Regions from separate parts of the Homo sapiens genome. Here region 1 is linked to region 2. Evidence: fine-mapped QTL for protein levels in blood plasma. A gene starts in region 2. The other region holds a variant in brackets. All regions are shown on one strand. Distances are from middle to middle.

Region 1 (14,684 bases), 2.6 Mb after region 2:
CCTTCCTGCTCCTCCCTGCTGGGATTACAGCTGTGAACCACCCCACTTGGCCATCAATTGTATTTTGAATTTAAATGTTTTATAGTCATCATTCTTCAAATATTCTTGGTTTTGTTGCATGTGCATGATGGGGTTCAGGACATGCTACCCCAAAATATAACATCTTGGGGTATTGAATATTTTATGTTAAGGGAATTTGAATAAACAATAGAAGCAGGAAGGTCACTGTCACCCTCCCCCTGCCCTTCTTTCCTGAAGTCGATTATAGACCCTTATGTGAGATGTTCCCTCTCTGTACCCAGAGGAAAGGTGCATCCTGGAGTCTGAAGACACAGGGACACAGAGAAGAGCCTGAACACAGAGGCCTGGCCCCGTTTTCCCCAGTTTGTTACTGTTAGATCATACTTTTATTGTCTTATCATACTTCTCCATGACTATCCATTCTTCAATAAAACTACTCTTAAAAAACAAACAAACAAACAAAAAACTGAGGTTTAGCTGTTTCCATGGGCCTTCATTTCCTTTGGAAGGCATTCCTGTCATGTAAAACTTACATTAAATAAATACATCTGCTCTTCTCTTATTAGTCTGTCTTTTGCTGTGAGGGTCTCAGCAGTGAACCTAGGCTGGGTGAGGAAAAGTCATATTTCCTCCCCGACATGTACAAATGTCTTTGACTGTAAAACTATAAGAATTTTACTGGGGCAGATTTGAAGCAAGAAATTGCATCATTATTCCCCTTTGGATGAGCTGAACAGATGAGCTAATAAACTCCCAGTTCCCCCCAGATAGAAATACTTCTCTAGCTCATTCCCTGAAGCTCCTAGAGGGTCAAACCTGCTGGAGATTAAGGGGCCTTCCTGGGATCTCCCAGCCCAGGAGGTTACTGCTGGTGAGAGGATTGCTGCAGTCTCCCTGGGAGGGTGCATGGCCATTGGAAAGTATCACTGCTGTAACTTCAGTACAACTGGTTTTCATCACATCTGCTCTTTGTGCAGTGTTGCAGGCAAAATACAAGAGCTAACATGCACATGAGAAACACATGCACATCATCAACTGTGCCTGCAACACAAAGTGCCACATGTCAGGCACAGTTGATGAGTGTGCATATGTTTACTCATTTAGTCCTTACCTCAGGCCGAGGTCACATCATCACCTTCATCTTCCATATGAGAAAACTGAGATGCACAAAGATGTTAAGTGACCTGTCCAGGGTCACTCAGCCAGCAAAGAAGAATTTGAAAGCAGGAATTTGAAGTGAAGGCAGCCTGGCTCCAGAAGACATTCTCAGAACCACTGTGTTTATACTGCTCCTAACAAAATCACCCTTGCAAAAATTATGACAGTGAGAAAAACCTGACATAGGAAAACTATGACTGTGAAAGAAATCTGACCTAACTGACTGCATCTTGCTTCTAATCTCTGAGCTGCCCTTGTCCATTCCTGGGAATAGGCCAGGCTAACTATGAGAGGAGTTTAGTTTAGTCTAACTCTGAAACAAAGATGATTGTCGCTCCTGAGACAAACCCCTTCCTTTCTTGGGGATCAGACCTCCTTAGCAAAGCTAACAAATTAGGCACGAGATTGGAATTTATGGCTCAGGAGCCGTGCAGCCAGAAGTCACATGATTCCTAAGCTCCCCAATTGTGCCTATATATAGTATTATTAGTGTCAAACCTAATATTGGTGTTTAAGATATTTTTCAGACCCTGCCTTGTGATGGACTAGCTGGTACCACTCAGACTGGTAAACTGGCTCATCTGGTCCTGTGGCCCCATCCAGGGACTGACTCAGTGCAAGTAAACAAGCTCTTACACCCTGTGATTTCCAACCAATCAGCTTTGCACATTCCCTAGCCCCCTGCCTGCCAAACTATCCTTAAAAAACAAAAAACCAAAAACCAAAAACCAAAACCAAAACAAAACAAAAACCCTAGTCTCTGAATTTTGGGGGAGGCAGATTTGAGTAATAATAAACCCCTGTCCTGGTCCCTCAGCTGCATCTGCATTTGTTAAATTCTTTCTCTATTGTGGAAAGCCTGCTGTTCTCAGCTCCATTGGCTTATCTGGGCAATGGGCAGAATAAACTTACCAGGCAGTTACACTAATAAAAGAGAAACACAAATTGTAAGCATGCTTCAAAAGAAATGTTAAGTCTTTGTATTTCTTTTGAAGAAACACAAAAGGAGGAGGAATGATAAGACAGGCAATACACTGTCCTAAATATTTTCATGATTCTCCTGCCTCCTTCATATCCTTCTTATCCCAACAACTTCTCCCCAGAAACCTTCAACTTAAACATGGTCCTGCCAGAACTGGGTTTGTCCTTCCCTTAACATTTTCCTCTCACCTGCCCTACACCCCTTCCAAATCTAATCTGTTCATTCACTTCCAGGTCATTGAGGATTTTCCATTTAAAAATATAAAAAATTCATAAAGAGGAAGATAACTGGTCATCCATATTCACACCTCCTGGAATTAACTACTGTTAACATATCTACATATTTTTCTTCCGAATCATTTTTAAGCTATTGTCTTTTTTAAAAAAAATTTATACATGCTAAGCATAGACCGTACTAACAGTAGAGAAAATGTAAACATATGTAAAATTTTTGATCACCTTAAGTTCAAAAATAACTTCTCATAACATTCGGGCAACACTGGAGTCATGGTATTGTGTTATATCTACAGAGAGAAGAAAGTATATTTTAGCTAGACTGTTCCCCCCAGGCCCCACAAAAGAAAAAAGAAGAAAAAAAATAAAGAAGGATATATATGCCTGAAAAAATTATAAAATTATAAAAATATATAAAATATATATTTAATATATAAAATTATATAGTATATATAATTCTATATT[TA/T]AAAATATAAAAATATATAAAAACATATATGTATGCTTTTATAAAATTGAGCTTAGACTCTATTTTTATTTTACAAATATTCCACTTAATAGTGCATGAACTTAACTGCAGACAAAGAGACAGAAACAGAAATGAAGGAATTCCTGAACTCCCTAGCACAGTTAGAAAGACATTTGTCTAAACGACTCCTCTAAGGGCAAACATACATTAAATTAAGGAGAAGACATTAAGATTTGGAGTGGTTTTCTTATTCCTTTTTACAACCAAGTTAAGGTGTGAGTTGCCTATGGTACAATGCATCCATTTCAAGTTTGATGACTATTACTCTAAAAGGTCCTCTTGTGCCCTTTGCAGTCAGTCCCGCCCTCCCCCTGGCCCCAGCAATTAATGATGTATTTTCTGTCACTATACAGGTTAGTTTTACCTGTTCTAGAAATTCACCTTGATGGCGCCACACAGGATGCCCTCTTTTCATCACTCGGCATGATGTTTTTGAGGTAATCCATGCTATCTCATGTTTCTGTAATGTGTCCCATTTTATTGCTGGGTAGTTGGGGTAGATCGCCGACACATTCTGCCGACAAGTCAGACTGCGGTTCTGACCTGAAGGCCTCGGTGAACATAAGCAAGGGCACCTGGGCGCGGGGAGAGCCGTTCCCCTACAGAAAGCAAGCGTGTTGTGTCTACAACCGAACAGGGACACTGCTTTCATCCCAAAGAACAGCACCCGTCTGCCTAGAATTTCTACCTGGCTCTAGGAGGTGAGAACACATTCCCCGCTAGCACAGAAATCCTACAAACTTCTGTGGGGGCTGCGGTTAGAAGCACAGGCTGTGTGAAAGGTGACTCCGGGGGCTACGAAAAAACACGAAGGTTTTCACATAGGGTGAGAACCCAAGACACTGGAGACCATGAAGCAATCTTGAAAAAGCAGCCCCACGTGGAAAGGGAAGAGAAGAGCACTGGGGCCACTTAGCTTGTGTTAAGCAAGCTCATGATAGGGGCGGAGAGGACAGTAACACAATACTTTCTCTTTCTTATGCTTGCGACTGTAGGACAACACTTAACATGCCAGCAAAGCTACAAACCCGTAGAAAGCTAAGTAGAAACTAAGAGTAGCCCTTCCTGCAGAATTCACTTTTTGCACTGCAAGATTTCAGCGGAAAGCACTAACGCAGTTCTCCACTGTTATTGTGCAGCCAAATTTCTCCCATTTGGGTTAATCGCAGGATCAGCACGTCCACAGTGCAATGGAAAAGCAACGCCCTGGGAAAACAACCTTCATAACGTCCTCTCCGATGCCAGGTAATTAGGAGTTCACACGTTTCCGTCTTGCTACTGCTCCACACGCCTCACCCTTTTTACACACGGTCACTTGCCCCGCGCACCCCGGAGCCCTTCCAGCCTTGACACACAGCTGGGACTTTCAGGTCTGAACAGCGGTCCTGGACTTGCTCCCACAGCACGGGAACTCCTTCGTAGCGAAGCAGCCGGTGGCGAAGCAGCAGCCCCTGTGCTGCCTCATCTACATAGAAGTCGCCCTATCCGTGATGTCACTGACAGCGCCTTTCCCGTCCGGCTCTGCTTTTCCGCCCCACCTTCTGCCACTCAGCCGACCAACATGCTGCCAGAGACTGCGGGGACAGTGACGTCTGCCTTTCCTTCCTTTCCCTCCCTTCCCCGCCCCAATCTTTCCAAGGAAGCAGGTGTTTCTGTTGTAGTTTTTTGTTTTGAGCCGCAGTCTCGCTCTGTCGCCCAGGCTGGAGTGCAGTCGCATCATCTCTGCTTCCTGCAACCTCCGCCTCCAGGGTTGAAGCGATTCTCCTGCCTCAGGCTTCTGCGTAGCTGGGATTACAGGAGCACACCACCAAGCCCTGCTAATTTTTGTATTTTTAGTAGAGACGGGGTTTCACCATGTTGGCCAGGCTGATCTCGAACTCCTGACCTCAGGTGATCCGCCCGCCTCGGCCTCCCAAAGTGCTGGGATTACAGGCTGAGCCATCATGCCCGCCCAGAAGCCGGTTCTTAGCCTGTGTTGCCGATGACCTCTTTGGCAGACAGCTGGAGGCTGTCCACCCTTCTTCAAATAATGGTTTGTAATGCGCAGACTAAAACATGTAGGATTACACAAGAAACTAGTTCTCTTCCCATCGTTATTCTTCTGATGTAGCATTCTACTTGAAATTGGAAGCCGTTCAGTATCAGAGAGAAACCATATCTATGAAACTAGAGATGCTGCTCAGATGACTGCAAACCAGCCATCCTTACTTGTTTTACCATTAGTAGTGCTATAAAGACGGTGGTCCAATTTCATGAATCTTGTAGGATTTTTTCAAATACAGCAATGTACAAATATGCTGCCCCAGCAGAGCACACTGGACACTCAGGCATGGTGCTGGAGTTTGTCATCTCTTCCATGGCCTTCTGTAGACCGTAGCACTTACCTCATGTTAGCACTTTATATTCTGCAAAGAGAGAAACAAGTGGTCCAAATTTGGAGAAAAAAAATTGGGGGAAATTTTATTTGAGGTGCTTAACTGATTACTTTTAATTTGTAGAATACAATCCCAAACTCTGACAATACTCCACAGACTCCAAATCTATCAGGCAAGTTTTTCCTGTCCTTTGCTTTCATATAAATCAAATCATAAAGTGTGTAGTGGGTTTTGGGGGAGTATAACTGCGCAGTGGGTTCCTGTTGCCTGCTGCCTAGACAGAACCAATTTATCAAGACAGGGGAATTGCAATAAAGAAAGTTGTTTACCCAGAGCTGGCTGTGTGGGAGACCAGAGTTTTATTATTACTCAAATCAGTCTTCCTGAGCATTCTAGGACCAGAGTTTTTAGGGATAATTTGGTGGGTGGGGGACAGTGAGTTGGGAGTTCTGATTGGACAGGTCAGAGATGAACTCACAGGGAGCTAAAGCATGCTCTTGAGCTGGGTCAGTTCCTGGGTGGGGGCCACAGGATCAGATGAGCTGGTTTATCCATCTGGGTGGTGCCAGCTGATGCATCGAGTGCAGGGCTACAAAATATCTCACAAACCGATCTTAGGTTTTACAATGGTGATGTGATCCCCAGGAACAACTTGGGGAGGTTTAGAATCTTGTAAGCTAGAGGCTGCATGATCCTAAACCATGATTTATAATCTTGTGGCTAATTTGTTAGTCCTGCAAAGGCAGCCTAGTCCCCAGGCAGGAAGGGGGTTTGTTTTGGGAAAGAGCTGTTATCATCTTTGTTTCACAGCTAAACCATAAACTAAGTTCCTCTCAAAGTTATTTTGGCCTGTGCCCAGGAAAGAACAAAGACAGCTTGGATGTTAGAAGCAAGACGGAAGCAGTTAGGTCAGATCTCTTTTGCTGTGATAATTGTCCCAGTTATAATTTTTTCAAAGTCGGTCTCAGGAGCAGAGGCATAGGTTTGATTTCTTTCACTCAGTCTTACATCTATGAATTTTTCATGTTACTCATGTGGTTATTTGTTTCTGTGCACAATCCTTTGTATGAATATCGGCCAACTTATCTATTTATTCTACTGTTGCTGAACATGTTGACCTAAAAGAAAGAGGCTGAATCACAAAATAGAATCTAGAGTTTACTTGAGCCAATGTGAAGACAGCTGCCTGGAAGACTCACACCCAAAGAACCTTGGATCTGAGCTCCCTTTGGCCTTTGTCACAAGCAGGTTTTTAAAAGTCAAAAGGGGGGGATGCACAATGGGCTGATAGAAAGGTGCCCGTCAGGAATTCTCATTGGCTTTCAGAAATAGCATTGATGAGAGCTTGGCTATCCCTTGTTATAGGGTGTGGGATACAGTGTTTGGTGTGGCATTATTAGATTAATTTACAGCTACCTGGGGTGATAGCAAGCAGTTTCAACAGATGAATACATAGCTCAAAAAGAAGGAAGCAGAAAGTGGTTGCTGTCTTGATTTAATGTCTCTCTGATCATGTGAAGTGGCTCACATTCCTCAGATAAAAATTCTTTAAAAAATCTTTCTTCTTGAAAGCATTGATGATCAAAAGCTCAGCCAACGTGTCCCTCTTTGCCAGGAAAGCTCATTCCCAGATAGTCTTTCCCACGGTGAGGGCAGGGGAGGAAAGGAGCTGCCTCACTGAGGAATTTTTAAGAGCACCCAAAAGCCCAATTGAAAGGGTGACACCGAGTAGAAAAAAAAGAAAAAGAGAAGAAAAGAAAAAAAGGAGGAGAGAGAGACCTCAGTTAAGTCTGCAGCTATCACTCGTTGAATCATTTCTAGTCTTCAGATACCATAAAATCAGTTTTCTCAGAAGCAGGAAATATATAGCATTAATTATTTGAATAGTACACATATAATTCACACAAGAATGAGAATCACAAAGAGAATCTGTATGCCAGAACAGTAAGGGAACCTATTCCATTAGGGAGCCAACGAAAAACATCAGGGAAAACATCACATCCCAGTTCTTCTTTCATGATTTCTTGTAGCCAAATGACTTCTAATTTTTTCTAGATGAGGTTCTACTTCATGGGAAGTATTTATTTATGTATATGCAACAAGAGGTTGTAAACACCACACATCCACCTCCCTGCTCAGCTAAATCTATCATCTAAAGCGGGCTGCGGAGGCTGCTGTTGCTGGGGCTCTCCCCTTGGTGTTCTGGGCTGCGTTGTACTAAGTGGAGAAGGTGGTTGTGGGCAAGCGTTGTGCATAGATCACAACCAGGTGGGCAGGGGGCTGCTCTCTCCACACTATCAGTTGACAATGTACAATTCCTTTTATGAACTCTTGTAAGTGCTGCTGTATCTACCCATTGTTTTTGTTTTGTTTTTATTTTTTTGAGACAGAGTCTCTCTCTGTCTCCCAGGCTGGAGTGCAGTGGCACGATCTCGGCTCACTGCAGCCTCTGCCTCCTGGGTTCAAGCGATTCTCCTGCCACAGCCTCTCAAGTTGCTAGGACTACAGGAAGATGCCACTGTGCCCAGCTAATTTTTGTATTTTTAGTAGGGACGGGGTTTCACCCTGTTGGACAGGCTGATCTCAAACTCCTGACCTCAGGTGATCCACCCACCTCAGCTGCCCAAAATGCTGGCATTACAGGCATGAGCCACCTAGCCCAGGTTCTACCCATTTTTAAATAAGGCTAATAGTGTCTTTGAAAATATACATCATCTAAAGTGACGCGATTATCTAGTACAACCTTAGCCAGTGAATGAATAGCTTTTTGATGAGCTGTGAAAGAGGCTACAGTTTCATCAGCAATACCTTTCTTTCTTTCTTTCTTTCTTCCTTTCTCTTTCTTTCTCTTTCTTTCTTTCTTTCTTTCTTTCTTTCTTTCTTTCTTTCCTTCTTTCTTTCTTTTTCTTTCTTTCTTTCTTTTTCTTTCTTTCTTTTTTCCTTTTCTTTTCTTTCTTTCTTTTTTTTTAAGACATGGTCTCGCTATGTTGCCCAGGCTAGATTGCAGTGATGCAGTCTCAGCTCACTGCAGCCTCAACCTCCCTTGCTCATGCAATCCTCCCACTTCAGCCTCCCAAGTAGCTGGGATTACACTGACGCACCACTACCCCCGGTTAATTTTTGTATTTTTTTAGTAGAGACGGGGTTTCACCATGTTGGCCAGGGTGTTGAACTCCTGACCTCAGGTACTCTGCCCTCCTTGGCCTCCCGAAGTGCTGGGATTACAAGAGTGAGCCATCGCGCCCGATTCTTTTTTGAATGTTTGGAAGAGTTCGGCTGTGAGGCCATTTGGTCCCGGGCTTCTCTTTGTTGGGAGGTTCTTCAGTCCTTTTATTTGTTATTGGTCGTTCAGGCTTTCGGTTTCTTCTTGATTCAATCCTAGTCGTTTGTATGTTTCTAAGAATTTATCCATTTACTCTAGGTTATCCAATTTGTTGGTATAGAGCTGTTAATGATAGTTTCTTATGATCCTTTTTACTTGTGAGGCTTCTGTTGTAATACCTCCACTTTCATTTCGGATGTTATTTATTTGAGTCTTCTCTATTTTTTTCTTAGTTTAGCCAAGTGTTTGTTAATTTTACTTTTTCCAGAAATACAACTTGGGTGTGAGAGGCCTACGTTGCATCACCACTGGAGGCCAGTAGTTCCCAGTAGGCCTGGGAAGAATAGTAAGATGTTGTCTCTCCTAAAAAGAGGGAGAAAGAGAAAGGAAAAGGAAAAAAAAAACCCAACAACTCAGTTTTGTTTATTTTTCTGTAGTATTTCTATTCTTCAGTTGATTGACTTCTGCATCGATATGTTGTTTCCTTTCTTCACTGAACTTTGGATTTATTTTGTTGTTTTTTTCCTGGTTTCTTGAGGTGTAATGTTTATTTGAAGTCTTTCTTCTTTTTTAATGTATGCATTTATGGTTATAAACTTGACTCTTAGAGCTGTTTTTGCTGTTTCCAAAAGATTATGTTGTTTGTTTTCACTTTTGTTTGCCTCAATCAAATTTCCCTTTTGATTTGTTCTTTGATCAGTCAGTTGTTAAGAGTTATGTTGTTTAATTTCCATGTATTTTTGAATTTTCCAGTTTTCCTTATGTAGTTAATTTTTAGTTTCATACCATTGTGGTCAGAAAAAATAATTGATCGGATTGGAATCATTGTTAATTTGTCTAAGATGTACTTTTCATTATTTTAATTAATGTATAATAGTTGTACACATTTTGGGGATACACATGGTATTTTGATAAACATATACAATTTGTAATGATCAAATCAGTGTAAGTAGTATATCTGTCACCTCAAAACTTTATCTTTTCTTTATGTTAGGAATATCCCAATTCCTCTCTTCTAGTTATTTTAAAATATACAAGAAGTTATTTTTGTATATACTATCAAATACTAGAACTTATTCCTTCTATTTAACTATATTTTATATGCATTAACCAATACCTTTTCTTCCTTCTCTCCTGTCTCCTTCTCAGCCCATCTCCTTCTCTCAGCCTATCCCCTATCTCCTTCTCAGCCTCTTGTAACCACTAATTTTTATATATGATATGACACATGAATTCAATTTTTTCTACTTGTTTATTTTTATATAGTTACAAATATGTTACATCAATTGCTTAAAAAGAAAATCCTCAATCATTTGTTGAAATATTATGTATTTTTAAATACATTGCTTTTTTAAGATTGTCAAAAATCTGTTCTCAATATATGTATTGGTTTATATTTGGACTCTATTTTCTTTTGATCCATTTAATTGATCACATACCAAAGCTCTGTTGTGGCCATTACAACTCTGTGATTGTTCTTTAAATCAGGTGGAGCTAGCCCTCCAATTTTGCTCTTCGTTATATAGGCATTTTTGTTATGCTAGTTCATGTTAATTTTAGAATCAGCTGCCATTTTCTACCAACGATGCATGCTGAAATTTTGAGTCAGATTGCATTGAATTTATAGATCAAATTAGGGGAAATGGACATCTCAACAATATTCTTACACATGAACAAACAATATCTTTCCAGTTATTAGGCCTGCACTATGTTCTCTGTGAAATATGCTCTAATTTTCAGTCATATTCACATTTATGGATTTTATACACTTGACATTATTGTAAATGATATTCCTTTTACATTTAAATTCTGCCGTGCAATTGCATAAATACAATTTATTTTTGCATATTGATCTTATATCCTGCTAGAAACAAATGCTTTTTGAATTCAGGTTTGATCGGCCAGTGGCAGTATCTTTGGAAACTTTCATATTTACCAGGCATGAAGAATCTTTCTCATTTCAATTGGACCTTTATCACCAGCCCAAGGGAGAGGAAAGTCCTAACGCATATCAAGTTCTGAGGTTGGGAAGAGTTGTACTTTGTAGATAAATGCATGTGAAATGTTCTGTATGTTTGCCAATAAGTTTTCATTAAGATTACTCATGCAGTTATAAGGCTGCCCATTTGCACTTGTGTTTAGCTGCAATACTATAGTTGTAAAATTTAGAAGCCAATGTTCTCCCTTAGTTTAAAATTTAATATTCAAGAATTTACTCCAGTATTATGTAGTGCCAGAAACTTTGGGATGATATGCAATGATATGTCCAGCAAGTATGAGTTTGTACCTGATCCTTATTAGTCTTCCTTCTGATGTGATCTATTATAAAATGAGACCTTAAAGAGCTTTAAAATAATTAATAATGGCATGCTGAGGAGATTAGTTTGTGGGATATTCAGTAGCCATAGGAAACAGTAGTTCCTACTCTGTATCTCAAGTGAGAGTCCACTCTTCAGTATGTCAGCTTCAAGACCCTGATCTGCAGTGGAATTTGCAGCCCCCTGCTGTGTCAGCTTCATTACTTCAAGGGAGGGTGAATGCCTTCAGTTCTTTAGGTCACAATTGACACATGTAGCACATTTTGGTACCTCTTCAGTTACTGACCTTTATGCCCACTCATGTCAGGCTTGCTCACCTGAGTGATTCACAAGATCACATTCCCAATGCATCAGATCACTGTGTCACAAAAAACCAAAAGCATTTATTTGTCATTATGTATCTCTCCTGAATTTCAACCTTGATAGGCTAACATGGCTCACAAACAGCTTTAAATTTGGCTTCTCAAATGTCTGTCTAATGGTTTACAAAAGTCCAGTTACTCAAATGAATTTATCTTACAGTCCGGTTTCTATTGTTCCATGCTGTGCCTCAGTGACATAAACCAAGAGTCAGTATATACAAAGATTTATTCCCACTGGTTTATAACCAACCAATAAATAGTATGCCTGTTATATATAGTTCTGTGCATTGGGTTGCCAGTCTCCTTCCTTCTTTTACCTGATTGTTATTGGAAGTGGAGATGATGTAATGTTATGGGTCACTTCTATTAGCGTCCCTGGACTACAGTTCTACCATCTATTTTTTAAGCTGTTTTACCTTGTTATATAAGATCTGCATATTTAGTAGCATCATTTATGTTATTAATAGTTAACATCTATGGTAGTCACTTCTTTGGTTAGGTCAGAGACTAAAATCTGAAAATTAGAAATCCATTCTTTATTTCAGGTGTGTGCATGCTGTTGTGTTGATCCCTCTCCTCTCCCAGAAAAGTCATTGTAGGCCCAAGTTGATGAAGGGACAGACTGTGAAAGAATGGATGCAGAGCATGGACTAAGTATGCAGTGCCCACTGAGTTGAAAATGTTGCTAAAGTTGCTTTTCTGCGATTGTCTAACATTCCTCTGAGTCACCTCGTCTGCTGCTTAAGAACCCCAAAGCATTTTCTTCACTGTCTTGTGGCCATTGTTATAAACTCCACTCTGTTCTTCCTGTGTCAACTACCACACAGTCTGTTTCATTCCATGGCCCTAAAGGCAGAGCCATTTTTCCAATTTTAGGTACACTAAGGGTATCCTGTTTCTGCAAAACCAATGGATGTTAGTGGTTCTCTTAGTTGTTGTTGTTGTTGCTGTTGTTTTTTTTTTTTTGACGTATGAGGCCATAATTGGAGTAATGTGAAAAATATTTTTTCCTCCAGAAGTTATTAGATGCTGCTATATCCAATATTTGTTCTATCAGTACACTATAATGTATCCCAGCTATGCATTTTATATTTCCTAAAACTTCACTTCTGAGAAGGCCCTTCACGAGTTTTTAGAAATTCATGGCCCACCCAGCAGCATTACTAAGTCTTTTGGAGTCTAGCCTCATGGTCTTTCTGTTGATTTTCCTGCTGTCAACATGTAATCTGTGAAATGAAACAAAGGGAGGGGATCCAGGCCAAGACTTGGCGACATTCATTTATGACAGTCAGTAGTCAGACACTATGTGCAGAGATCCTCCAGATCCTGTTTGACCAGCATCTTTGGGAGGTTAAGAGCCCAGCCCTGTCAGAACCACTATTCATTATCATCGACCCTTTCACCAGAATGCACCTGTGTGTCGGCTACTGATTTTCTCACCTCCAGGCAACTCAGGCTGAGCTGGGAGCAGAAATCTTAAGCTCTTGTCACTAAGGACTCTTCTGTGCTTCCTCTGTATCACCCGCCATAACTAGCATAATGCTTTACTCACAGGGGCTCAGGAAATGCACTTGTTGAGCTCAACAAATTGAGAATCCAAGTTGCCTGATAAGCAGAGATGTTATGGTGTAGAGAATTGGATAGGGTAAGCAGAGGAACAAAACAGGTTGTCATTTTGTTGTTATTGTTGTTGTTGTTGTTTCTTAGAGTACAAAAATTGTGACTGGCAACTGCTGGGGAATCCTAAGGCAGGACTTTAGTCCCTAACCCCCCTACATTCTCACTACATTCATGGAAGCTGCTTTACTCCTTTCCACCTTAGGTATTTAATCTATAATTAGAGGATAAAATACACAATTTCTAAATGCTAGTACTATGACTGATATAGAATTTATTTTGGACACAGGTGAATCTTGAAGTCTGCAAAGCATTTCAATTACCAAACAGAGGCCAGGCACGGTGGCTCATACCTGTAATCCCAGCACTTTGGGAGGCTGAGGTGGGTGGATCACCTGAGGTCAAGAGTTTGAAACCAGCCTGGCTAACATGGTGAAAGTCCATCTCTACTGAAAATATAGAAAATTAGCCGGGCATGGTGGCCTACACTTGTAATCCCAGCCACTCAGGAGGTTGAGGCAGAAGATTCACTTGAACCCGGAGGCAGAGGTTGCAGTGAGCTGAGATCATGCCATTGCACTCCAGCCTGGGCAAAAGGAGCGAAACTCCATCACAAATATATATATATATATAAAAGTAGACAGAAGATAGATCATCTGTGATTACTATGTCAAGGACAATTTTAGAATTCTTGTTAAACTCACCTCTTTCTTTTCACAGCTGGCCAGGACTTAGTCAGTATCTACTGAAACCTTGAATATCTTGGCTGTGTTAACTGTTTTGACCCAACATGGAGCGAAAATGTTGGTTGTACCTTGAGATTCTGACATCTGGTTGAAGTCCAGGTTCACTGGCCCAGGACAGGTCATTCAGCTGTTTGAAAAAAAACAGAAGAGAGACCAGGCCATCCACTGAGGTAATCTCCATGCAGCATGAACCACTGGTTCCAATGAACCCACCATCACCATACTTCTCAGGAATCGCTGGTCACTAGACTGAGAGTTCTGTGAAAGCTGAGATCATATCTTACTAATCTCTGTGTTCATGGTTCCCAGCTCAGGGTCTAGCACTGAGGGAGTTCTCAGGAGAGTGTTCATCAATTATTGAATAAAAGCGATTGCAAACCTCCTCTCACCTGCATTCCTGTCCCAAATATCCTGTCAGGGATGCTGAGATTTCTCCCAGGATGCAGCAAATCCCTTTCCTTAGACTGGCCCTTGCCTTACACCATTCATGCCCCAGGATCCGTCTCTGTGGGACATTAGAGGAAAATGAGTCTGTTCTGAAGAAGTCCTCTTATGGTTCCCCCTGTCGTTAGGAGCAATGTCTTCACCTAAACTCCCACTCTCTGGGTTGCCACAACACCCCAATATGGGGGAACTTCCATATTTTCTTAAAATGCTATGTTTCTGTTCTTTCTCTCATGGGCTTGAGTTCCTTTGGGGAGACATTAATATCTGAATCCCAAGTGTTTAACACAATGTAAAGAAAATTAAACACCCAATAAATATTTATGAGATATCATTTGGAAACCTCCTTCAACTGTAAGTACAGAAGAATATTATAAGTATCACTGCTTTGTATACTAGCAAGGGACGCTTACTCTGGCACCTGACCTAGGGCAGAGCTTTTTATGTAAGAATGGATGTCTCCAACCCTTCTCCCAGCATGGTTATTCCCTCTAACCCACACTGACCTGAAGAGCATCCACTGCTATGGCAGCCCCAAGGTCAAGGCTCCTGGGTCTGGGGCGGGGCTCATGGTCGCATC
Region 2 (16,134 bases):
AGCAAACCACAGGCCGAGGACTGGGTGACCTCACCCCTCTTCCACCCACACTGGAAGAGCCATTTGTCTTTGCTGGGCCTTGGCTTGGCCCCCAACAAAGACATGACCTGAGCCCATGGATAAACGGTTTAAAATGACATTGAGCAGCTTCCTCATACCAGCTTATCTTCCTCCACCTCGGGGCTAAGCCCTCCTGGCCTCCTCTATATCTTTCAAAGCAGAAGGTAGAATGGGAAAATCTGGATTTAGGATCAGAACACCTGAGTTCATCGCAATCCCAGCAATTTGTGAGGCCAAAGCGGGCAGATTGCCTGAGCTCAAGAGTTCGAAACCAGCCTGGGCCACATGGCAAAACCTTGTCTCTACAAAAGGTACAAAAAGCCAGGCATGGTGGTGCATGCCTGTAGTCCCAGCTACTCTGGAGGCTGAGGTGGGAGGATCACTTGATTGAGAGGCAGAGGTTGCAGTGAGCCGTGATCATGCCACTGCACTCCAGCCTCAATGACAGAGCGAGACCCTGTCTCCAAAAAAAAAACAACAAAACAAAAAAGAAAGAAAGAACACCTGAGTTCAATTCTGACGCCACCATTTCCCATTTCCCAGGTGTTTGATCCAGAGTAATTCATTTTTAACTCTCTGGGTCTCACCTTCATCATGTATAAATAGTTGTTATTGTATGGTTTTTAGAAATTTTTAAAAATTGCTGTTGTTGTTGTTGTTGTTTGAGATGGAGTCTCACTCTGTTACAGCCCAGGCTGAAATGCAGTGGTGCAATCTCAGCTCACTGCAACATCCGCTTCCTGAGTTCAAGTGATTCTCCTGCCTCAGCCTCCCGAGTGGCTGGGATTACAAGTGCCCGCCACCATGCCTGGCTAATTTTTTGTATTTTCAGTAGAGACAGGGTTTCACCATGTTGGCCAGGCTGGTCTCGAACTCCTGACCTCAAGTGATCCTCCCGCCTTGGCCTCCCAAAGTACTGGGATTACAGGCCTGGTGTATTCCTTTTGTCTCTGGTTTATTTCATTCAATATGATGTTTGTGAGGTTCACTCACGTTGCTGTGAGTAGCTGTAGTTCATTCATTTTCATACTAGGATTCCATTTACATGATGTCCAAATATAGGGCAGAACTTTGGGGGATTCCTGCTTAGGTGGTAACACACGACCCTAACTTCTGGTATGCTGGCAATATTCTAGTTCTTGAGCTAAGTGAAGGTTACACAGGTGTTTAAGATTAATTACCGAGCTATGCATTTTTGTTTCATGCACTTATTCTGTATAAATAATAATTAAATTATATTGAAATTTTAAACATTACAATATGTGTATAGCATACTGGAGTAAGAAGAAGCTCTTCCAGTGACCTGCCTGAGGATTTCAGCTGTGCTCAGCTCTGCATGATCTATTCAAAAATGAAAGGGATCAATATCTTGGCATGCCAATAACCTACATGTGGCACACCTGAGCAATCTGGTCAGGAAGCTTTGATCTCTCCAATTTTTAAAAATTGGCTGGGCACGGTAGCTCATGCCTATAATCTCAGCACTTTGGGAGGTTGAGGCGGGAGGAATGCTTGAGTCCAGGAGTTTGAGACCAGCCTGGGCAACATGGTGAAACCCCATCTCTACAGAAAATACAAAAATTAGCTGGGTGTGGTGGTGTGCACCTGTAGTCCCAGCTACTCAGGAGACTGAGGCAGGAGGATTGATTGAGCCTGTGAGGTCAAGGCTGCAGTGAGTCACGATCATGCCACTGCACGCCAGCCTGGGCTACAGAGCGAGACCCTGTCTCAAAAAAAAAAAAAATTAAATTGTGGTAAAATATTCATAACAAAAAAATTATCATTTTAATCATTTTGATTATACAATTCAGTGGCATTAAGTACTTTCACACTATTGGGCAACCATCACCACCATCCATCTCCAGAACTTTTTCATCTTCCCAAAGTGAAACTGTGTAGCCGTTAAACACGATTTTCTATTCCTTCCTCCCCAGCCCCTGGCAACTACCTTTCTACTTTGTTTCTACAAATTTGACTACTCTAAGCACCTTCTATGTGTGGAATCATATGCTATTTGTCCTTTTGTGACTGGCTTATTTCACTTAGCAAATGTCTTCAAAGTTCATTCATGTTGTAGCACATGTCAGAATTTCCTTCCTTTTGAAGGGTGAATAATATTCCACTGTGTACATACATCACATTTTATTTATTCGTCCATCAAGGAATGGATTGCTACCACCTTTAGGCTGCAGTCAATAATGCTGCCATGAAAATGGATGTACAAATATTTGTTCAAGTCCCTGTTTTCAAATCTTTTGGGTATTTGCCCAGAAAAGGAATTGCTGGATCATACATTTAATTTTTTAAGGAACCACCATACACCATACTGTTTTCCACGGTGGCTGCACCATTTTGCTTTCTCACCAGCAACATAGAAAGGTTCCAATTTCACCACATTCCCATGAACACTTGTTCTTTTCTGTTTTTTGTTTGTTTGTTTTTTAATTGATGGCCATTTTAATGGGTTTGAGGTGACATCTCATTGTGGTTTTGATTTGCATTTCCTTAATGATTCATGATGTTGGGCATCTTTTCACGTGCTTACTGGCCATTTGTATCTTCTTTAGATAAATGTCTATTCAATTTGCTTGCCCATTTTTAAAATCAAGTTGTTTTTGTTGTTATTGAATTGTATCATCTCAATTTTTCTTTATTATAAAACAAAGACTCAGAGAGGTGAAGTGACTTAGCCAAAGCCCCCTCAGGCAGAAACATGGCTAAAAACTCTGTGCTTTTGCTTTTGTGGCCAATGCCCTTTCTACTATACCAGTCTGCCTGGCTCAGTGGGTATCCTCACATTTTTCCTCCAACTTCAGGTCTGATTGTCCTAGTATGCATGTCCTACTACCTTGTCTTTTTAGTAGCTCATTAACTTACTCTGAGCCTGGAATTTTAAGCTCCAGTGGTTTTCTCTCCCTGTCTAGAGTCAATATTTATGACAGTCTCCCTTTCCACTCTCTCTGTTACTCTGGCCTCATCCCACCTTAAGAGGCGACTGTGTACTCTGCATACCTTTGGAGGAATTTATTAGGCCAGAGTCCAGATGCAAGACTGAGATAAATGTTCTATAGCAGTGTGGGTGACAGGCTGGAGACGGGGCAATGCCACTTGGCTGCAGCACACACTGTGGCCCCACATGACTGCTGACTGGAACTTTCTAGTTCTTTTCAGTAACCAAGTGTCAGGACAGGGGAGGCCTGAGGATCCTTGGAGAGCTATGAATTATTAACACTTGCAAGCTGGCTGCCAAGGATATCCGAGTAGTAATTCACTCGTTCTTCCTTTTCCCAGATGAGGGGTCAGAATACACAATCCTTTTCCACCATAAGAAAAAGGCACAGAACAAGAACATGCCATGTTCTGGGTTCCTGCATGTACCAAGGTCTGGTCTTGGCACTCTTGGAGTGTTGGTTAAAAGGGTATTTGGTTGCCCCTTTCTGAGAGATACAGAAACAATCAGTGGTTCTTGGGCAGTTTGGATTCTGCCTTAAAAAGCCAGACCCTCAAGGGCCCCCAAAGGTCCAGAATGGGGAACAGGAGAAGAGCAAGGAAAGTGTCAGGTATATCAAGGCTACAGCCTCAGCCTGACCTCATCCCTCTGGGGACCATCCCATGCAGAGGTAAAGGGTCAGTGAGAAAGAATCAGGAACCATGAACAGCCTAGTGGCCCAAGTCTGTAGCTTGATTTAAAAGACATCCCTCGGCCGGGCACGGTGGCTCACGCCTGTAATCCCAGCACTTTGGGAGGCCGTGGTGGGCGGATCACCTGAGGTCGGGAGTTCAAGATCAGCCTGGCCAACATGGAAAAACCCTGTCTCTACTAAAAATACAAAATTAGCCAGGCATGATGGTGCATGCCTGTAATCCCAACTACTAGGGAGGCTGAGGCAGAAGAATCGCTTGAACCTGGGAGGCAGAGGTTGCTGTGAGCTGAGATTGCGCCACTGCATTCCAGCCTGGGCGACAGAGCAAGACTCTGTCTCAAAAAAAGAAAAGACATCCCTGCCAGGCGCGGTGGCTCATGTCTATAATCCCAGCACTTTGGGAGGCCAAGGTGGGTAGATCACCTGAGGTCAGGAGATCGAGACTAACCTGGCCAAAATGGCAAAACGCTGTCTCTGCTAAAGATACAAAAAAAAAAAAAAAAAAAATCTTCCGGGCGTGGTGGCAGGTGCCTGTAATCCCAGCTACTTGGGAGGCTGAGGCAGAAGAATTGCTTGAACCCGGGAGGTGGAGGTTGCAATAAGCTGAGATCATGCCATTGCACTCCAGCCTGGGCAAGAGAACGAGACTCTGTCTCAGAAAAAAAAAAGACATTCCACCTCAAAGTATTACCTTCCCCAGAATGGTTCCAGTGCCCCCTGACATTCTAGCTTGGAAAGTAAACTAATTGTGCCCATCCTGTTTACTCTGTTGCTTAGAATTCTTGCCAGGATGCTGGGCGCGGTGGCTCACACCTGTAATCCCTGCACTGTGGGAGGCCGAGGCAGGTGGATCACTTGAGGTCAGGAGTTCGAGACCAGCCTGGCTAACATGGTGAAACCCCGTCTCTACTAAAAATACAAAAAATGGGCTGGGCGTGGTGGTGGGCACCTGTAGTCCCAGCTACTTGGGAGGCTGAGGCAGGAGAATCACTTGAACCCAGGAGGCAGAGGTTGCAATAAGCCGAGGTTGCGCCACTGCACTCCAGCCTGGGCAACAGAGTGAAAGAGCGAAACTCTGTTTCAAAAAAAAAAAAAAAAAAGAGAAAGAATTCTTGCCAAGGAAAAAGCAATGCTTGTCTTTTTTTTTTTTTTTTGGAAATGTAGTCTCGTTCTGTCACCCAGGCTGGAGTGCAGTGGCATGATCTCAGCTCACTGCAACCTCTGCCTCCTGGGTTCAAGTGATCCTCCTGCCTCAGCCTCCCAACCAGGATTCCAAGTGTGCTCTACCACGCCTAGCTAATTTTTGTATTTTTAGTAGCGACAGGGTTTCACTATGTTGGCCAGGCTGAATTTGAACTCCTGACCTCAAGTGATCCACCCACCTCAACCTCCCAGAGTACTGGGATTGCAGGCATGAGCCACCACACCTGACCAATGATTGTCTTTATTATCCACTGAAGAAAGTACATTTTCTCCTCTAAAGCCCAAGTCAGCATGAGGATGGCACCATCCAGTTTGCCTTAGGGTAGAGTGCAGCCTCTGTGCCTCCAGACAACTGTAGAAGTGCCTGCAATTCCACTCAGCAGAGTATTTTTTTGCTAAGCACCCTTTGCTAAGTACTACCTATTCATTTCCTCTGGATCAATTGAAAATACCAGGGAGGGTAAATGTTAAATCTTTGATGGAAGAATGAGGCATCAAGACCTGGGACTCTTCGTGCCTGAGGGAAGGTTGAGAAAGAATGGCCATTGCCAAGTGTGGGAGACCAGTTTCCCCAACTTCTTCAGCCAAAGACAGCTTCGCAGGTGCCTTTCAGAGGAGCCCTGCACTGGGATTCACATAGTGTGGCTTGCAGGCAGCTCTCGGAGCAGCCCCACAGGCCTGGTCTCCCTTAGGAGGAGGCCTGGCCGCAAAGGAACTTGGTGTCCTCTATGACCGGAGAGGGACAAGACAGGCTCTATAGGACACCAAAGTAATTTGGGCACATTTTTCTATGCCTTCTGTTTTAAAAGACATAACTTGAGAGTACCTGGTGAGCCATTCACTACAGACTGGAAATTAGAATAGAGGCTGAGAGAGACATTTTTTTCCAGGCCTGCCCTGTCATCTTGATACCCAAACCCCTGAAGCTGCCACCTCTGTCTCCACAATAAAACAGCCCTGAGGTCAGGTGTGGTGGCTCGTGCCTGTAATCCTAGCACTTTGGGAGGCCGAGGCAGGTGGATTACCTGAGGTCAGGAGTTTAAGACAAGACTGGCTAACATGGCAAAACCCCGTCTCTGCTAAAAATACAAAAATTAGCCAGGCATGGTGGCACGCGCCTGTTGTCCCAGCTACTCAGGAGGCAGAGGCAGGAGAATCGCTTGAACCCGGGAGGCAGAGGTTGCAGTGAGCTGAGATTGTGCCACTGCACTCCAGCCTGGGTGACAAAGCGAGACTCTGTCTCAAAAAAAAAAAAAAAAAAAGCAAAACCAAAAAAACCCAGCCCTGACTCCCTCTCCATATTTTATCATTATTCTATTACCAACGACCCTGGGCTAAAGGCCAGCAGTGACAGTGGCTGGGACAGGGGCTGAGATGCCTGCACAGCTTTGCTGTATGTGCCTCTGGCTCTGAGGCTTGGTTTCCTTCCAGAAAACTGTTGGCTGTGCTAGGTGTCAGTTCACCCTTCTCCAGGGGAGAAGCTGGGCCTCGCACCAGCCCCTGGAGCCTCAAATGTGCTCCCTCACAGCCACTGGGGCTGCTCACCAACCATCACAGTAGGCCCTGAACTGGGCCAAGGTCAGAGTTACTCTCCCTCACCCACACTCCCCAAACTCACACATGCTAAGCAACAAGGGGAAATGTGACAGGAGAATGAGCTCTACTCTTTACATGCGGGTGTAGCCTCTGGCACCTTCGTGGCCTGGAAGTCTAACACAGTCCAGTGAAATGTAGAAATAGCTACAAAGCTAAAGTGACCTTTGGCTGCAGTGAACACACGAGACTTGGACTAAGCCGAGGCAGGTAGCAGGTCTGAGCCATGTATCTAACAAGGGAGACTGACAAACTGGACTCTGTTCAGAGAAGAGGAGAAAGGACAAACAAAATATTGGAACCGTGAAAGCACTAAAATAATTGTAAGAAATAATTGCAGGAGCTGGGGATATTTAGCCCAGAAAGGAGAAACTTTAGAATGATTAACTTTCTTCAGAGAGTTGATAGACTCCTGAGTAGAAAGGAAAACTAGGTAATGCTGGCCAGGCGCGGTGGCTCACGCCTGTAATCCCAGCACTTTGGGAGGCCGAGGCAGGTGGATCGCCTAAAGTCAGGAGTTTGAGACCAGCCTGACCAACATGGTGAAACCCCTTCTCTACTAAAAAATACAAAAAATTAGCTGGGCGTGGGAGCGGTGGCTGCAATCCCAGCTGCTCAGGAGGCTGAGGCACAAGAATCACTTGAACCCAGGAGACAGAGGTTGCAGTGAGCCAAGATTGTGCCACTGCACTCCAGCCTGAGCAACAGAGTGGGACTCTGTCTCAAAAAAAAAAAAAAAAGAAAAAAGAAAAAGAAAAAGAACACTAGGTAATGATACTAGCCCACACCTGAGTACTTTTATATGCCAAGCACCATGCCAATTGTTTTACACACTTTCTCATTTACTCTAAACAGCAGTTCTGTGATATAACTGCAATTATTATCCCCATTCCACAGTTGAGGAAAACACAGAAAGGTTGAATGACTTATCCAAGGTCACGTAGTAAGTGGAGTCAGGACGTAAATCCAGGCAGTCTGCCTCATGTGCCTGAGACTTGCCTGCCATCCATAGACATTTCCCATGTGGGGCCCTCAGCAGACTTCATTGAAAGTTAAAGGCAGGCAGGACTGACAGCAGCACAAGGAAGAATTTTACTGGAAGTATTCCACAAGGGATATTGTGTGGATACTTTGGGTGGTAGTGAGCTGCAGAACAGTAGACAGATTCAAGCAGAGGATGCAAGAGGTATTACCCTGAACAGTTCGCAAGGAGCATTACAGCAACAATAGCACCAGGGAACTTGTTAGGAATACAACTTCTTGGACCACCCCCACCCCTGCCCTGAGTCCCTGAATTAGAAACTCTGCAGCTGGGCCCAGCCATCCGAATTGTTCAAAGATGCCCTGCTGGTGATGTTAATACACGCTCAAGTTTGGGAAACACTGGCATGCAAGTGTCTGCACACTTCCAGGGACTGGAAGACTGCTGCAGTCTCTTCTGCTTCCAAAACCCCATAATTCTACAGAAGTAAGATGGAAATACAATTCAATGTCCACTCAGTTTTTCTTTGTCTTAATGTCGAGCACTTACTATTAGTATCTTGAAAACAATCTATCAGTTGCTAAATTGTGTAACTGGACTCATACACCTTAGACATTGAAAGGCCCACAGGATACATATTTGGGAGGCTGTGGATGACCAGGAGGCAGCCTATATTTCAGCCACCTCATTGCTTCACTGACTTCCAAACCAGCCCCATATGTCCCTGCTCCTTGCTGGTTCATACTGTTCCTCTACCCCTGCCTTTTGAAATCCTGCCTTCTTTCAAAGCTCAATTTAAATGTCACATTGTCCACACAGAGTGCCTAACACTGTCTGCGCCCACAGGGCAGTCTCCTTTTCTTCCTCCCAACCTCCCCTGCTTCCTGGGTTCTCTCTCACTTCTGGGGTACTTAGAGCTCTTGGTGCATTCTGCTTCTGCTTCATCTCACGGGAATGCAGGCCTCTCTCAGCAGTGTGCTCGCCTTGACAGCAGGCCCCATTCAGTCATCGTCAACCCCGCAGGGCCTGGCACACAATAACCTTGTGAGAAGCGACCAAAAGCAACATTTGCAGAAAACTGTGCATGCAACCGTTTGCAGGATGGACAGACACTACATGGCTGGTGAAAAGGAAGCGCGCTGCGATTCACTTTTGAGCCCTGAGGTCTTTGCAGAACTTTGAGGTTTTTTGCAATAACCAGTATGAATACATGTGTGTCAGCTAGTACTTAAGTGGCCCCAACCTCACTCACCCACAACTCTGGTTGCCTTTAACTTCTCTTCATGTTGCTAATAATCACTGTTTTACAGCTCCTGGATGATAAGGAATGCTGAGTGCTCTCAGAGCCAACCTTTGAAAGGTTCTCATAGACCCAAGGAGGGAGAAGTCTCCATTTTAGAGAGCAGAGAGGTCATCTGTTTGAACACTATCATAGAGACAGCAAATAAGGATACTGGGAGAGCAGAGACCAGGCCCAGTTTAGCAGTTTATGCCAGTGGGACCCAGTATCCTGTGGGCTGTGGTGGACTGGTCCTGTGACCAGGATGATGGTGAGACACTCCTCTTCCCAACATGGGTTCCCAACCCCCAGGCTCCCAGAATGGACTCATTCTGCAGTGAAAGCTAACACTTTGATGGAGTGAAGAAGTATTTCTTTTCTTTTTTCTTTTTTTTTTTTTTTTAGAGACACAGTCTCACTCTGGCATCCAGGCTGGAGTGCAGTGGCGCAATCACGGTTCACTGCAAGCTCCGCCTCCCGGGGGGTCACACCATTCTCCTGCCTCAGCCTCCCCAGTAGCTGGGACTACAGGCACCCACCACCAGGCCCAACTAATTTTTGTATTTTTAGTAGAGACAGGTTTCACTGTGTTAGCCAGGATGGTCTCAATCTCCTGACCTCGTGATCCACCTGCCTCGGCCTCCCAAAGTGCTGGGATTACAGGTGTGAGCCACTGCGCCTGGCTTGGAGTGAAGAAATATTTCTAATATCTGTCTCATTTGACGATGGCTTCAGTGGAGCCATCTGGGAGTTCTCAAACCCCAGAGCACCCTACTGTTTTTAGGACCACAGAGTACTACAATAACAGGAATAAGAAGGAAAAGAGAGTCTCTAGACTAGTTATGAAAAATTTTCCCCCACCCTCCCTCCACCCTTGAATTCCTGGGTAGCCTGGCACTGGGTGGCAATCATGACAGGTGTTCCTCCAGAACCGTGGGGCTTCCTGGTGTGCTGTGCCCTTTGGCACAGGGCCTGGCCCAGCCTTGCAGGACTTAGAGCCCAATGCTTCTAATTCTCAGACTAATGTTCCTGCCATCTAAGGGCACAACCCTAGAATTTAGGAACAATTGTAATCTCCCAAGCCATCACTGACCAAGGAAGAACAGAACAGAATAGAAATGGATGGGAAGCTGGGAGTGGTGGTTCAGGCCTGTAATCCCAGCACTTTGGGAGGCCAAGGCCAGAGGATTGTTTGAGCCCAGGAGTTCAAGAGCAGGCGGGGCAGCATAGGGAGACCTCATCCATACAAATCATTTTTAAAATTATCAACCGAGCGTGGTGGCTCACGCCTGTAATCCCAGCACTTTGGGAGGCCAAGGCAGGCAGATCACTTGAGGTCAGGAGTTTGAGACCAGCCTGGCCAACATGATGAAACTGTCTCTACTAAAAATACAAGAATTAGTCCAGCATGGTGGCAGGCTCTCGTAATCCCAGCTACTCAGAAGGTTGAGGCAGGAGCATCACTTGAGCCCAGGAGGCAGAGGTTACAGTGAGCTGAGATCACGCCACTGTACTCCAGCCTGTGTGACACAGCGAAACTCCATCTCTAAATAAATAAATAAATAAATAAATAAATAAATAAATAAATAATAAATAAATAAAAAGTTATCCAGGTGTGGTGGCGTACACCTGTGGTCCTAGCTGCTTGAGGGGCTGAGGTGGGAAGATCACTCGACCCCAGGAGGTCAAGGTTGCAGTGAGCCATGATTGCCCCACTGCACTCCAGCCTTGGTGACAGAGCAAGACCCTGTCTCAAAAAAAAAAAAAAAAAAAGGAAAGAAAGAAAAAAGAAAAAGAAAAAAAATGGGTGGGTGGGAAGATAAGGTCAGTCATTCATCCTCCCCCCACCACATCAGGACCATTTTGGTGCCCCCACTCGTTGCCTCCCCTGCTCACCACCACCCTCACCCAAGCCTTCTTGACAGCTCCCTGACCTTCTTCCCTTTCAGCCTGGAGCAGCTGTGTTCTCTGTCCTACTTCTAACCAAAACCTACTCTCAGGAGAAGACTTGGTACCTTTCTTTATACTTGAGAGGACATTCTGTCCTTTTATCTTCTAGTTATTCTATCATCAGTCCTTTCCTTATTATGAATTAGCAAATACAAAATCTTTGTTCCCCAGGGTAAAGAAAAGAATTTTAAGAAGTGGTTTTTCTTAGCCCCCTCAGCACCCTAGTCTATTTCTAACACCAAAAAGACAAAACAAGGGAGAGGAAAGGAGAAGGAGATGGAGGACCAGTTGCAGGAGAGAAAGGAGAAAAAAATCCACAGTGGGGGTGGCGGAAGATCTATGACTTCTAACAACCCATTCTGTGGTTTTCAAAGAGCGAATATAATAACAGCTATGAAAGTGTGAGCAATGACGAAACTGGAGAGATAGGGTTTTAACAAGATGCAAGGACAATCTGAGGACTGAGAGCCATTTCAACGTGAGCCCCCAGTCTGAGAACAAGAAAGAAGAACTTCTGTCTCGAGGTAAAAAGGCCTGCTGGGGACCTGGGGTCCAGGTGAAGGGATGGGATGGTTGACAGAACTGCTCAGGTGAGGACAGGCTTCTCATGAGGTCCCTGAGAAACTTGCCTTTTGGAGGGAAATGTCCTCTGCCCTCTGGAGCCTGGGGAGAAGGTTATTTCTGCCCGCCAGACCAGCATGCTCGCTTTTCTTCCATGGGCATTCAGGAATCCTGGCCCCATTCTGACATTCCTCAAATGGAGGAATTCCTCAAATTACCAGAGGAAAGTTACCAAAGTTTAGATCTGCTGGAGCTCTTCAAGGATTGGCCTGAGACAAGCCGGGAGGTGCCACGGGGCTTGGAGCTGGCCCTGTGAGGCACCTCCGGGGGAAGTTCATGTCCTAGGTGGTTCACGTCATGGACCTCTTGGAGGTCCGTGAATAGATTTATTCATGGGATTTGTGAATTGGGGGGAAAAATACATCTTTATTTTCACTAATCTTTAATTGAAAGTCAGCACTTGCTTCAGTTATGAATGTAGACAATGAACCACAATAGAATTTGCCATCAATAGAAAACACAAATATTTTCAAATCTCATTACAGTTTTTATAGATTTCTCCAAATGTCCTTAACGCTCAGCACTACTACAGAATTACAACAGTTATTAGGCTGATGTCAAATCTAAAGAAGCATGTGTACTGCTCTACCACACATTCTTCTAATGTTTTGACAACTGTCTTGTCATAATTTGTTCCCTTTATTATCCCATGTATCTTATTAATTTTTAAATGTTGTTCTGAGAAGGGACTCCATATGCCTTCCCAGACCACCAAAGAGGTCCATGGCGCCTTTATGTCAGGCACCTGCTTTGGTGTGTTGAGCAGGAAGCCTGAGATCTCAGACAAGAGCTTCAAGGGCCCCCCAGCCCAAACCTCTGTCTACTAACAAGTCTGGTTCTACTTTAAGGCAGTTGGGGTTGTGGAGATTGAAAAAGAAGCCCCTTCACAGCTGCAAATGAGATCTTTCTGGGCATCTTTTTCAGTGTCGTGGGAGATCTGTATACAGAGGTATTTGTGGAGCTCAGAGCTGACCTTCCAGCTCCTCTGAGAGGTTAGATCCGGGCTCCGGTGGCAGAGGAAATGGAGACTCTTCCTTGCCCTCTTGTCCCCACCCTCCCCAGAAAACCTCTGGCAAAGCTTTATGTGTCATCTAACCGTCACCACATTCCTATGAGGTAGTTTTAAACACAAGAGGAATGTGAGGCTGAGTGAGGTCCAGCAATGTGCTGGTCACACAAAGCTTGGATTTGAACCCAGGAGTCCACAAGACTCCAGGACCGCCTCCGAAGGTGCGGGAGGGAAGAGTTTCCCGCCGTCTGTGAGCTGTCGCCTGAGAGAGGCACCGAGCCCTGGGGCCACCAGCGCAGCTCAGGAGCCCCGGGGACCATCAAAGATGAGGATGCCAACTCCACGGGCACCCTCCCCCCTGCCCGCGCTGGGGCTCACAACGTTTTAAGAGGGGAGACCCGCCCCTGGCGTGTAGTGGGCCCGGAAAATTCCCAGACTTCTCACGACCACCCGCTCTCCCCTCTGTTGAGGGCCAGGTGCCGCTCTAGTACATGCTGCGTCCCCAGGACCCACCAGGCCCAACTTTGCACCCCCTCATCTCCCCTCCTAGTTTAGACTTTCCCTGGCTAGCCCCCATGCTCGCTGGATGGCCCATGGCTGGAGTGACGCGGGCCAACGCGGGGCAGGTAGGGGGTCACTCGGCTTTGGCTGAAAGGCAGCGCCCTCTAGCGGCCAGAGTGCGAAATCAGCGCCGCCGGCTCCGCGCTGCCCCGCCTGCATCACAACAGGGTGCTCCCCTCCCGGGCACCAAGGTCACTTCCCAGAGCATCCTTGCCCAGTGACCTCGCTGCCCCCCAGCGCTGGTGAGGGGCCCACAACAGACTTACATGCTCTTCTTCAACTCGGCCCTAGGCACCGCGAAGTCTGGCCACTCCAGCGGAGTGACCAGCTGCATCAGCCCCTCCCGCCTGTCCTCTCTCTCCTTGGAAGCGGTCCCTACCCTGCGCCCCTCCCATCCCGCTGCACCAGTCCCTTAGGAAACACGCCTAGAGAAGGGACACGACCTTGTCAACATTCCACAGCTACCTAGTGCGGAGCCAGGACTGGAAGCCAGATCTCCTCAGCCCATTCCCCACCTTAATTCACCCACCGTATTCTTTAGTCACCAGCTCCCGAGAGCCCACAAACAACTATGAAGGCCTAACTTCATTGCCATCTTGCAGCCTTTCCACATCCCTCATCCAGAATTTCTCCTGTGCTGCCCCTTGACACTTTATGACCTTATTACTTAGTACAGTCGTTCTTGTGTTAACAGCTGTTCGTGAATGGATGAGCGGCTGTGAGGAGAGGGACAAAGGGGACTCCAAGAGAAAGACTCTCATAACTTGGGTTAGAGTCCTGCTCCCCAACTTAGGAGCTGTGATTTTAAGCAAGTCACAAGTCCCCTCCAAGCCTCTATATGCTTCGTACAAATAATAAATTTTAGAAAATAATAATGGCTTAGTGTTTTATAAGGACTAAACACAGTCTTGCAGGTAGATGTGCCTGGAACACTGTCCATTGATTCCAATATAAGAAAGCATAAAACTAATCATAGCTATCATTTATTGAGCCCTTACTCTCTGCCAGGCACTGTGCTAAGTAATTTACATAGGTGACCTCATTTGACCCTCACAACCCAAGGAAGAGAATATTTTGTCACCATTTTATAGGTCATTAAGAGATTAAGAAACTTGCCCAATATTACACAGATAGTTAAGTTTCAAAGCCAGATCTGAAACATCCTGGTCTGACTCTAGAGACCATTTAACCACTAAAACGTCCGCCTCTGCTGTGTTAGTGATCTCTCTGTGCCCCATGGTGTCTGACACATTATAGATGCTCCGTGTTTCTGAAATATGTCTATTTATTAAAGGCTGAGCATAGCGCCTGGCCCAGGAGCCTAAGAAACTTGACCGAGTCATGCAACTATTAAGTTTTTTTTGTTTTTATTTTTGTTTTTTCGAGACAGAATCTTGCTCTGTCGCCCAGGCTGGAGTGCAGTAGCGCGATCTCAGCTCACTGCAAGCTCCGCCTCTCGGGCTCACGCCATTCTCCTGCCTCAGCCTCCCGAGTAGCTGGGACTACAGGCGCCCGCCACCACGCCCGGCTAATTTTTTGTATTTTTTTTAGTAGAGATGGGGTTTCACCGTGTTAGCCAGGATGGTCTCGATCTCCTGACCTCGTGATCTGCCCACCTCGGCCTCCCAAAGTGCTGGGATTACAGGCGTGAGACACCGCGCCCGGCGCCACTATTAAGTTTTAGGACCAGGATTTGAACACAAACACTCTGGCTCTAGAGTCTACGCTTTTTAACCATAATTCTGGGCTGAATGAATAATTGCAATCCTTCTTTGTCTTCCTCTTTGAATAAAATGATTTGTCATTTTATTCATTTATCCTCTTTGTCACTTAATATTCCATGTTTCAAGAGTCACCAGGACATTCTGGTGTAGCATGAAGGTATGATAACACAGGAGAAGGAACAAGGAGAGGTCAAGGCTAGGAAAGGACATTGGGGCCATACCATGAGCTGCTGCTGGGATGTTTTATTAGGATTGTGACAAATGTATAGATAAGTACAGAAGAATTTAACAATCGTCTCTACTTAGATTTTCTTTTATGTTCCTTAATAGTACTGTATAGTTTGTATCCTATAGGTCCTATTCGGAATGTTGTTACATTTTTCTGGACATTTGATGGGTTTTTTGGTTGCTATAATGAATGGAACTTTTCCTTCTACCATATTTTCTGACTAATAATTATATCCAGGAAAATTTTTAATCTTATGTATTAATAAGTACCTTATTAAATTGTATGTATATACACTAATTTAGTTTATTGTTTTATACAAACTATAATTACATAACATTCTATTCTGTGGATCTGCAATAATTTATTCAACCATTCTCACCAGTGGGTCTTCACCTGTTTCCTTTTTTTATGGGGGCAGGAAGGCGACAAAGTTTTGCTCTGTTGCCCAGGCTGGAGTGCAGTGGCGTGATCTTGGCTCACTGCAATCTCTGCCTCCCAGGTTCAAGCAATTATCCTGCCTCAGCCTCCTGAGTAGGTGGGATCACAGGCACCTGCTACAACACCCAGCTAATTTTTGCATTTTTAGTAGAGCCAGGGTTTCACCATGTGGGCCAGGCTGGTCTCGAACTCCTGACCTCAGGTGATCCGCACGCCTCCCAAAGTGCTGGGATTACAGGTGTGAGCCACCACACCTGGCCTTCACCTGTTTCTATTTTTTTGGTATTATAAAAAATGCTGCAGTGAATATCCTTGTACATCTATACTAGCACACTCATGCTTTTATTTCTGTAAGCTATAGCCAAAGGGACAGGGTATGTGCATTTGAAATGTTAATATATAATGAGTATTCCCCCAAAGCTCCGTAACAATGTATAGTTCTACCTAGAGTGAATGATTGCACATATTTCTTCTTACCCTTACCAAAATTTGATTTATCTTTTAAATTTTTGTTCACTTAACAGGTGGTAATTCTGAAATTCTGAACTCTGAATTTTTAATTTGTACTTCCCTGAATACTTGTAAAACTGAAAAACTTTTTATTGCATTTCGTCTTTTGTGAACTGCCTATTCAGATACTCTTTTATTGTTTCTAATAATTCTCAATTAAGTTTCTTGGGTTTTCTAGATGTAAGTTATATCACATATAAATAGTAATAAATTTGCCTTAAGATTTCCAATATTTATACCCTTTGCTTTATTTTCTTGTCTAAATATAATGGCAAACACTTTCAGAACAATGTGAAATAACAGAAATAATAGGAAGCATCTCTGCCTTGCT

Alleles and levels. Alleles are on the strand shown, and positions count from the first base shown. The strength of an association depends on the size of the effect and on how common the allele is.
As copies of TA replace T in region 1, the plasma level of the protein whose gene starts at base 11,175 in region 2 goes down (strong association).

Evidence for each region. PIP is the chance, under the fine-mapping model, that this variant and not a neighbour inherited with it causes the effect. The UK Biobank Pharma Proteomics Project read protein levels with antibody pairs (Olink). The fine-mapping took linkage between variants from a reference panel, not from the people measured, so its PIPs are less certain.
Region 1: its variant is fine-mapped to the plasma level of the CD160 protein (UK Biobank, PIP above 0.99).

Annotation. Positions count from the first base shown.
Region 1 is chr1:148,330,595-148,345,278 of GRCh38, forward strand. It overlaps MIR5087 (microRNA 5087), which reads right to left and starts at 3,960; the gene lies at 3,885-3,960. It overlaps LOC124904403 (a long non-coding RNA gene), which reads left to right. Exons shown (of 2, transcript XR_007066575.1): 2 at 1-578. LOC124904404 (a long non-coding RNA gene) reads left to right here and starts at 3,271. Exons shown (of 3, transcript XR_007066576.1): 1 at 3,271-3,357; 2 at 4,060-4,165; 3 at 13,635-14,040. LOC124904402 (a long non-coding RNA gene) reads right to left here and starts at 14,401. Exons shown (of 3, transcript XR_007066574.1): 1 at 14,050-14,401; 2 at 13,619-13,787; 3 at 4,820-5,325. It also overlaps the pseudogene RNVU1-21. RefSeq lists enhancers at 3,698-3,777, 4,128-4,427, 4,143-4,652, 4,653-5,160, 4,708-4,817. The variant TA/T (reference allele first, on the strand shown) is at 2,860.
Region 2 is chr1:145,708,325-145,724,458 of GRCh38, forward strand. It overlaps CD160 (CD160 molecule), which reads left to right and starts at 11,175. Exons shown (of 6, transcript NM_007053.4): 1 at 11,175-11,235.